2 separate regions of the Homo sapiens genome follow, and region 2 is linked to region 1. Evidence: fine-mapped expression QTL. A gene starts in region 1. The other region holds a variant in brackets. All regions are shown on one strand. Distances are between the middles of the regions.

Region 1 (4,394 bases):
GTTGAAACCCCCGCATCTTCTGTCCGCCAAGGTCCCCCGGGGTGAGGTTGGGTTCAAGGACAGGAAAAAGTTAAGTGGCGTCAGGACGAAAGCACCACTTCTCCCCCTTCTCTCCCAGAATCTTCCTATCATCCCCCAACGCGCCCCGGGAAGTGCATGGTCCTAAGGTCCAAGGCGCCAGGACCCAGGTCCCCAGAGCCCTCAATCAGTGCCATTCTCTTCCGCAGCGCGGGTGTCAGCCGCGAGCTCGTAGCCCCTCGACACCCGCCTCTCTCTGGGGTCTCCGGGGACCCTTTCAGAGGCTGTAAAGGTGTCAGAAGCCCAAGGCAGGAGGCAGCTTGGTCGGCGCACCTCCCGGGCCACTGCTGCCACTGTCGGGGAGAGCCAGCAGCTCACCTCTGGGGTCGCGGAGGCCCTGAGCCTCTGCCTGCCGCGCACCGGCGTCAGGAGCAAGTCCGCGCGGCCGCGGAGCCGCAGAGTTACAGCCCCAAGGCGCGCGGCGGACTTCGCCCGCCCCATCTCCTCGCCTCGCGCCTCGGGACAGCTCCCGTTTCCTCCGAGCGGCCTCAGCTTCGCTGCCAGCGCCCCCTTTGCCCGTCCAGCCGCGGCATGGGCTGCTACTCCACTAACACACGCGCGCGCGCATACACACACACACACACACACACACACACACACACCCTTTGCCTCGCCAAGCGCCCACACTCGCCAACGCCCCCGCCCCGCCCTTCGGCCACCGCAGCAGAGGCCACGCGTGACATTTAGGACCACGCGTGACCACCGCGATCAAACGACGGCTACGGTCTGTGTTCGTAGGGAAGTGAAGTCAGACCTCTGCTGGATGTCGTGTGTCCCCTAGGACTGCGTCCTCCCGCGCAGACAGGTACGTGCCTGGGGTGTGCACATAGCCTCGGTGATAAGTGTCAAAGAGAATTTTCGTGCTTGCAGCCCCTGTTCTACAGTCAAGACTCGCGTTGGTGTTTTCTTTTAAAATCATGCCCTTAGGGATGTGTGTTCATGCTGCTTTATTTGTACAAGACACCCTTCCCCGGCCCGGCCTTCTCCGAGCCACCCCAGCGCGTCCTCCTAGATGCGACGACGTGTTTTTCCTAGCGAAGTCATCACGAGGTTAGCCACCTCGGACACTTCCCCGGCAGCCCCAAGCCCACGCAGAGATCGCAGACACAGACACCCGGCGCGCTGTAGGTCTGCAGGCAGCAGGCTCAGAGGCAAGCGATGGCAAAGGTCCGAGCGCTGTCCTGTCGCAAGGGGTCCGGGGGCGTGTGAACCACACTTGCTGACCCTCCCAGGACTCCCGCGCGCGGCCACCCGCGCCTCTTCTCAAATCACTTACCCCGATTCACTCCAGACTGTGGCCGGGGAGGTCACTCCCTGCAGAAGTGTCCCCCTCCCCCAACGCCGGCGAATAATTTTAAAGCAAAGGAGGCGCGGCCAGGTGGGCTCCCAAGCTCCGCGCAGACCCTTGGGCCAGCCTTGGCCGCTACCCGAGCGCCTCTCCACCAGACCTTGGAGGGAAGTTGGGGGAAGGGCGGGAGAGCACCGGCGCCCAGGGCGCAGGGGCCAGAGCGAGCCTGGCGTTCCGCCGCAGCCGGCTGAGACTCGGCGACGCGGGGGCTGTACCTGTGGCTGCGGGGCCGACGGCCGGCTGCAGGGCGGCTGGCTCTCCCGCCTCGAGACTAGGCGCACTCCCATCCCCGCCGCATGTTCTCCACGCGGGCTCCAGCGCGCTCACCACCGCCACCGCCGTCGTCTCGGCTTTATTTACCCAGCCCGGCGCGCGCCGCCCGGGAACAGGAATAGCGAGGCCTTCTCATGTTTCCTGACTGCCGGTCCCAGCCGGCGAACATCCTGCGGGCGCGGTATCCACGTTCCCGGGCGGGTGGAGAGGAAGCGTCCGCGCCCGCCCGGCCGCGGGGGCTGCTGTTAACCCCTAGCAGAGGAGCCGCTGCCGGGGAGCCCCGGGCCCGCCGAGTCCTCCGGAGCCGGGCGCGGCTCCCAGATCCGCCGGCCTTGCAGTCGTGGAGCAGACGGGGCTTTTCCCTTCGCACTTTAGGAGAGAAATTGGAGAAGCTGCCGGGAGCGCTCGGCTCCGGCTCCAGAAGCTGAGAGGCTGCGGTGCAAATCCCGTGTCTTAGCTGGCCCGATTGCCGGAAATTTCACTGCGCGTGGCTAGGCGGGAGAGGCCACTGTGACGCGCCCTGTATTTTCCTCTCGATTAGCTGGAGGGAAGTTAGAGCTCCGTTTTGCACCTACAGCCCTGGAGCGTATTGCGGGAAGTGCTAGTGCCCAGGAGCCTCTTTTCTGATGTCACTGGGCTTCTGGGGTCCTAGTTGTCTCAGTCAAAGCCAGGCACACATTCACCTCCGGGGCAAGGGCTGGTGAGGCTGCCCTCGCCGCTGGGTATAGGGATGGGGGAAAGCAAGGATGGGATGAGTTCAGCCCAGGTGGCCAACCCGCGGTGGCCCAAGTGCAGAAGAGGAAGCGCGCCCAAAGCCAAGGATCTGCACGCAGCAAAGGAGATGGAACTTAGAAGAATCACAAGCTGGGACACAGGGCAAAGAGAGAGAATGGCTACCAGATTCTCTGATTGATGATACTTTGCTTCCTAACATTACCGCAAATATAAGTAGCGAAAGCGGCGGTTTAGGTGCAACTGCAAGCTCAGAGCTTCTGGCAGCCCAGAAGATCCCCAAGGTGCCAACACGAAGCTGCCTGCGCTCTCGCCGAAGGCCCTGTGGTCCTAGCGAACTTTCGCCCTTTTTAAAGAACAAACTTAGATTTCCCCCCACCAAGCTTAAAGAAATAGCGCCATTTGTCCTTTTCCCCTCTAAATGCGGCTGGCCAGAGCCGGGGCAGTGGCCCACCTTAGCATCTTCTTCGTGTGTGTGTGTGTGTGTGCGCGTGTGTGTGTGTGTGTTTGTGTGTTGGGGGGGTCGCTAGAAGTGCTTAAAATATATACCAAAACTATTATTTTAAAGACTAATCACACCCTCAAATTTCATATGTGTCACCTCCCAAATTACGCGATAGCAAACCGTTGTGCAGGGGTACAATGTAAACCATAAAGGAAGGCCGGTTTACATTTTTGCGCACCAGGAAGATACAAAGTATCATTGGAGCACGTTCTGATGTCCTCGGTTCTCTTTTGTTATATAACTTGCTGTTGCAGCGCTTGCATCTTGTCTTTGGCGCTGCCCTTGTGGTGTGAGTTCAGTACAGGCTTCTGGTCTACAGACCTCGCTGTAGGAGCTTAAAGACAGGGGTAAATCCTAAGGTTTCAGCCATCAATTTTCAGCTAACAAATTTCACCACAGAAGCAGATCTAATTGATAATTCATAGGACAAAAGAGCCACCTTCTCTTTTATGGTCTCTATCAGTGGTGTTAGTCACCGGGAATTGTAATGAAATTAGCTCTAACATACCCCTGAAACATTTTTTGGTCAGCTGTCCCAGGTAAAGCAATAGGCATCATACAGTTACTTGCAATTTCCCAGTATTCTACTAACTTTTTGAGCTATATGCTATAGTACATGTTAGTATAGGACAAATGAATTTTGTTGTTTTAGTACTTAACTATATTTACTCAATTTAAAAATGCATTTAGAGCGCTTTTAAGATATACTTACATGTAATATTTGTTTTCTTAAAGTCTGAAATGAAATATACAGCAAAAATCTTAATGCAAAAATACTTTTCATTTGATATAGGAATAAAATACATTTGAGTAAGCCTCAACTCACTAAAAAATTAACATATGGTAATTCCCTTAGACTATGATTTAATAATTAAAATCCATTTAAAAATGAAAGAAGAGTGAAGGATCCATTCTAGAAGTGAAATGGTGTGAAATATCCCTCTGTAATATACCAATGGGCATTTATTTTATTTTTGCAAGTTTTATCCTCTATGCAAAAGGGAAGTGTTGTCTTCATTTTAATCCACACTTCAAATACATTCATTATTAAATTACACCTATTTCTAAAATAAATGTTACTCAGCCTCTTGTGCTATATCCAATGTCAGTATATGAAATGCTATATATAATCCTCAGAAGTAAAGCTTCCAGTTTCAGAAAGTTTTAGAAGATTTAAGAAAGCATATGTAGTTTGTGGAAGATGGCCTTATGCAGGGGGAAAAAAAACCCAAAACACCCAACAACTTAGACCAGAAGTCAGAAGACTTGAGCCCTAATCTTAATTCTGGTTAATTTGATGATGGTTTAGCCTGAATTTAGTAAAGTGTAAAATGACGGTAATAAGTTTTCCACAAACTGCCTTACACTATTATGAAGGGTTTCTTTTTTTTAATGTGAAAGTAAGATACTGCTTTGCTAAAGCTAGAAAGATGTTAAGTAAGAACATTTGAAAGAAAT
Region 2 (4,394 bases), 72 kb before region 1:
TGCAATAATATGTTCCAGTTACCAAGCACCTATTATCTGACAGACACTGAGGTAGGCACTTTATGTATTGCATTTTATCTCAATCTTAGTGCAAACCCTACAAGGTATAGCTCCTTACTCCCACTTTGCAGATGAAGAAACTAGATAAGAATGACTAAGTAGTAAGGGACAGAGCTGAGATTCAAAGGTAGTTCTGTCTAGCTTCAAAGCCAAGGTTTTCTCTCCAGTGCAGAGCACACCACAAATAATGCTAATTGTATTAGTGAGGGAAAGAAGGTATTACCTGAAAATGTTCATTTTAAAGTTAGGTATTTTAATAGTCGGCATCACACTCCCTTTTCCTCAGTCTTTGAAAGCTGGATTGGTGGCCTAAGGTGATGAAATTCAAACCTAATACAAATGCAGCACTCCCATATCATATCCCTTAACAGTCTAAGGAGAATTGCTGAATATAATGGGCCCGTCTGTTCTACTGCTTCATCTACCTGGTCAGCTCTCAAAGGAAAACAAAATCCATACGATCATCGAGGTCTAGAAATTAACTTTTATTTTAAATCTGTCAAGAACTCCTGGCAGTTATTAATTTTATTAAAATGATTACATATGGCAAAACAAAGAATAGAGGTAATTCTATTTCTCTACAACATAAATTATGAGTTAGATTTTCAGCTGCCGGCTCAGCATTGTTCAAGATTCTTTTAAAGGACTGGGGGGATTTTAATATCCAGAAAATGTTAAAGCAGCAAAAGAAAAAATAAATTAAAAAGTCATTGCAATTGGAGATATTACCAAGGATGTGCTTACTATAAAGTCTTCTTGACATGTTAATTATAAAATCTTCCAACCTTTGGTATTAAAAAAAATCATGTGAATAGTTGTCCTATATTGCCTTGTCATCTATAATTTATAACATAGAAGAAATTTGCTGATTTTTTTAAAAAGATGGCAAACATGAATCATGACTCATTCAAATAAAATACAACCAGCATTCATTCATTTAACTGAAATATGTCAAAACAAAAACACTTTTATTAACATATTTAATACCAGAATAACTTATAATAGTATGAAAAAGAGTGAAGTATTTGTCTTTAGTTTTCATTGACATGCTCACATTTTGGCATTTTTGTATTGTTTTGCAAAGATTCCAAAGTTTTTATCAGAGATCTCTAACTATTTAAGGATGCAAACCAAAAGAACTCATACTTCATCTGATCATACAGTCATAACTTATATATTTTGCTTTGCGCTTACTGTTACTGCAAACAGCAATTTAGAAAACAAAGTAAAAATATATATATATACACAAAATATTTTTATATCAAATTATCTTCATTACACTAAATAAACCCAATCCCCAAATGTTATGTTACATGAAAAAGTGTCCTACAATTTAGATCAAGACTGATACTGTCCATCAACTAGAGCAGCCTTTGGTTTTAAAAGCATTTTGCAAAATAAAGAAAAATGTCACCACTGGCTGCACTATTGACCCTCATTCACACTGACAAAAATGCTTTCCAGTTTAAAAAAAAAATAGATTACATACCCAGAAAAAAAAAATCCCATCATAAAAAGTCAAACCCTTTTTACTTCTCTGTAGCACATACCCTCTGTTATATTTGGCATTTCCACTGCTTATTCAAGTTTCAGGTCTTCCCAAGCTGATTGGAATATTATTGTTTAGTTGAGAAAGATAGTCTTCTTTCTTGATATTGATTATTCTCACTCAATGGTAGACTAATTTAGAAACAAAATGTTTTCTTTCAATGCATGATTTCACTTCATTTTTACTTTAATGTCCAACTTGGCAAAATTCAAACTGTTCAATGTTTTGTTTTCCATATGTTTTAAATTTAAAAATCAATTTTATGTATGTATATGTATAGCCGCACAGAGATACATTTCTTTCATTCTGTTGTTCTCGCTGCAATACAAATTGTCCATCAGCAATTGTAATTTGAAACAAACCAAATAAAAGATTTTTAGTCATTCCATACGAACACAGTTTCCATCACAAAAAGACAGTGAGCTCTAATGCAAACAGGATTATGTTTTAAAACTACAGGTTTAGTTTTACACAGGAAAATTTTGAGTTATTTGTATAATAAAGTTTTTTTTTAAACTTCAGCAGAACTTGAGAAACAAATCCAGATTAATTCTAAAGGGCTTTGTGGTGCTTTCCAACAGTGCTTGAAAAAAAGTTTTCCTGGTCACCATGTGTTCAATGAAATTTTAAATTAGCTTGAAGGAATCACTTCTTAAATGTACAACGTTCTGTGGATCGCTGCACCTTGAATTTTGGAAGTTTGTAACATATCAAATATGCAGGCAAGATACATGCATAAAATTCTCACCGTCACTCTGAAAAGCACATTGAACAATTTTCAATA[A/C]TGTAGACGTTTTTTAAAAGGAAGATTTCATTTGGGCTGAACAGATATCCAAGTTTTAACATATGAATTATTGAATGTATTTCAAGGGCTTTCAGCGATTCTGGTTTCAGTCCTGGAATGATTAGGCCCGTCTGGAATGATGCACACAGGCTAATAAGCATATGGCGTTGGCATTTTGAGGCATAGCTTGTTCAACTATGCCCACGTTGGAGCTTATTGTCGGGAAGCAAGGCACTTACTGTAATGGTAATGCAGATGTTTTATGCATAGTTTGAGTAACATAAAATAAGTTAATATTTTTGATTAAAATGAGTTTTTTATAATTTATATGTCTTTTATAGAAGCAACTAAATGATATATTTGGGATAATTAAAAATAAGAAGAGGTTTGGGAGAGAGTCATTTTCATCCCTGCTTCGGCTCTTAGGATGAGGGTTGATGAAAACACCGGAAAGAACATCCATTGGATCTGAAAAGCAACAAGCTCTTAAAACTGCTGCACCAGCGGCACTTTGACAGTCTTTACTTCTGCTATATGGGACGACTTCTGGATGATGCAGCTGGTAGTTCCCTGCAGTTTGTCCTTTCCCTGTGCAAGATTTGTTAAGGCCATAGCTGCGTTGATCTCCTTCCAATACGTGTCATCCTTGCTTGGTCCTTTTCTGTTAGCTGCGCTGGAGTTAAGCAAAACAGAAAGTAAACGATCAAACTCACTGCAGTTTGCATTGAAAATGCCATCGCTGAAAAGCAGGAACGGCCAATGGGAACATTTTGCTCACCTTTCACCCTTATTGGATCCGTTTTCCAGAGTGTCTGTAAAGAAAAGCAAAAATTCAATTATTTTTATGTTTTTCCTTTCTTTTCTCATCTCAGGAGTTTCATCACTAATGACCAGAAGTAAAAGTTCTTCAGGAAATATGGTTGAAAATTAGTTCGCTTTTAATAAAGATAAAGCAGTTTATATTAAGATGCAAAAAAAATTGCAAAGGGGCAGAAGTAAGATGACAGTGGGTAGTAAAGAATAAAAGGTAGCTCTCATAGATACACAAAAATCTGAAGTTATTTACTCTGAGAAATTGGGCCTTTTGGATCAGGAGACAAACAGCATAAGGAAAAGAGTGCTGACTGTACCTGGGGCCAGGTTCTGGCCTTGCCCTACTACCCACTTGCAGTGTAACCTGGGGGCAGATTATGACCTCCCACAATGTCAGGGATTCAGTTCTCTAACTATAAAATCAGGGAGCTTTGGCTGGGCACAGTGGCTCATATCTGTAATCCCAGCACTTTGGGAGGCCAAGGCGGGGGATTGCTTGAGCCTAGGAATTCGAGACCAGCCTGCGCTACATAGTGAGACCTCATCTCTACTAAAAATAAAAATAAAAATAGCTGGGTATGGTGGGTGTTCACCTATATTCCCAGTTACTCAGGAGGCTGAGGTGGGAGGATTGCTTGAGCCCAGGGGGGTGAAGGTGCAGTAAGCAGTGATTGTGCCACTGCACTCCAGCCTGGGCAACAGAGCAAGACCCTGTCTCTAAGAAAATTAAAATAAAAAAGGGGGGGGTTCTAGAAAATCTTGGGGGTGCTTCTGGCTCAATGATTCTATAATTTCATGGTTATCAAATTTTCTTTTTTCTTTTTCTTTTTTTTTTTTTTTGAGATGGAGGCTTGCTCTGTTGCCCAGGCTGGAGTGCAGTGCTGTGATCTCGGCTCACTGCAACCTCCACCTCCCAGGTTCAAGCAATTCTTCTGCCTCAGGCTCCTAAGTAGCTGGGATTACAGGCACCCGCCACCAAGCCCGGCTAATTTTTGTATTTTTAGTAGAGACAGGGTTTCACCATGTTGATCAGGCTGATCTCGAACTCCTGACCTCGTGATCAGCCTGCCTCAGCCTCCTAAAGTGCTGGGATTACAGGCGTGAGCCACCGTGCCTGGCCAGTTATCAAACATTTATTTCAGACAAAGGATGGGCAAATAGTTCCCTCTGCTAGTTAGCAAATGAGTA

Direction of the effects. Positions count from the first base shown, and alleles are read on the strand shown. Sizes are in standard deviations (SD) of each study's normalised expression.
For the expression in prefrontal cortex of the gene that starts at base 1,754 in region 1, allele C in region 2 goes with a lower level than allele A (small effect, 0.19 SD a copy in ROSMAP).

The links. PIP is the estimated chance that this variant, and not a neighbour inherited with it, causes the effect.
Region 2: its variant is the best candidate, but not a certain one, in a credible set for the expression of MKX in prefrontal cortex (ROSMAP, PIP 0.64).

Annotation. Positions count from the first base shown.
Region 1 is chr10:27,744,066-27,748,459 of GRCh38, forward strand. MKX (mohawk homeobox) reads right to left here and starts at 1,754. Exons shown (of 7, transcript NM_173576.3): 1 at 1,642-1,754. MKX-AS1 (MKX antisense RNA 1) reads left to right here and starts at 550. Exons shown (of 2, transcript NR_121652.1): 1 at 550-883. RefSeq lists an enhancer at 1,245-1,835.
Region 2 is chr10:27,672,350-27,676,743 of GRCh38, forward strand. It overlaps MKX (mohawk homeobox), which reads right to left. Exons shown (of 7, transcript NM_173576.3): 6 at 3,172-3,205; 7 at 525-3,066. The coding sequence ends at 2,880. Among named protein-coding and RNA genes, the nearest start is that of MKX-AS1, 70 kb to the right of the region's middle. The variant A/C (reference allele first, on the strand shown) is at 2,394.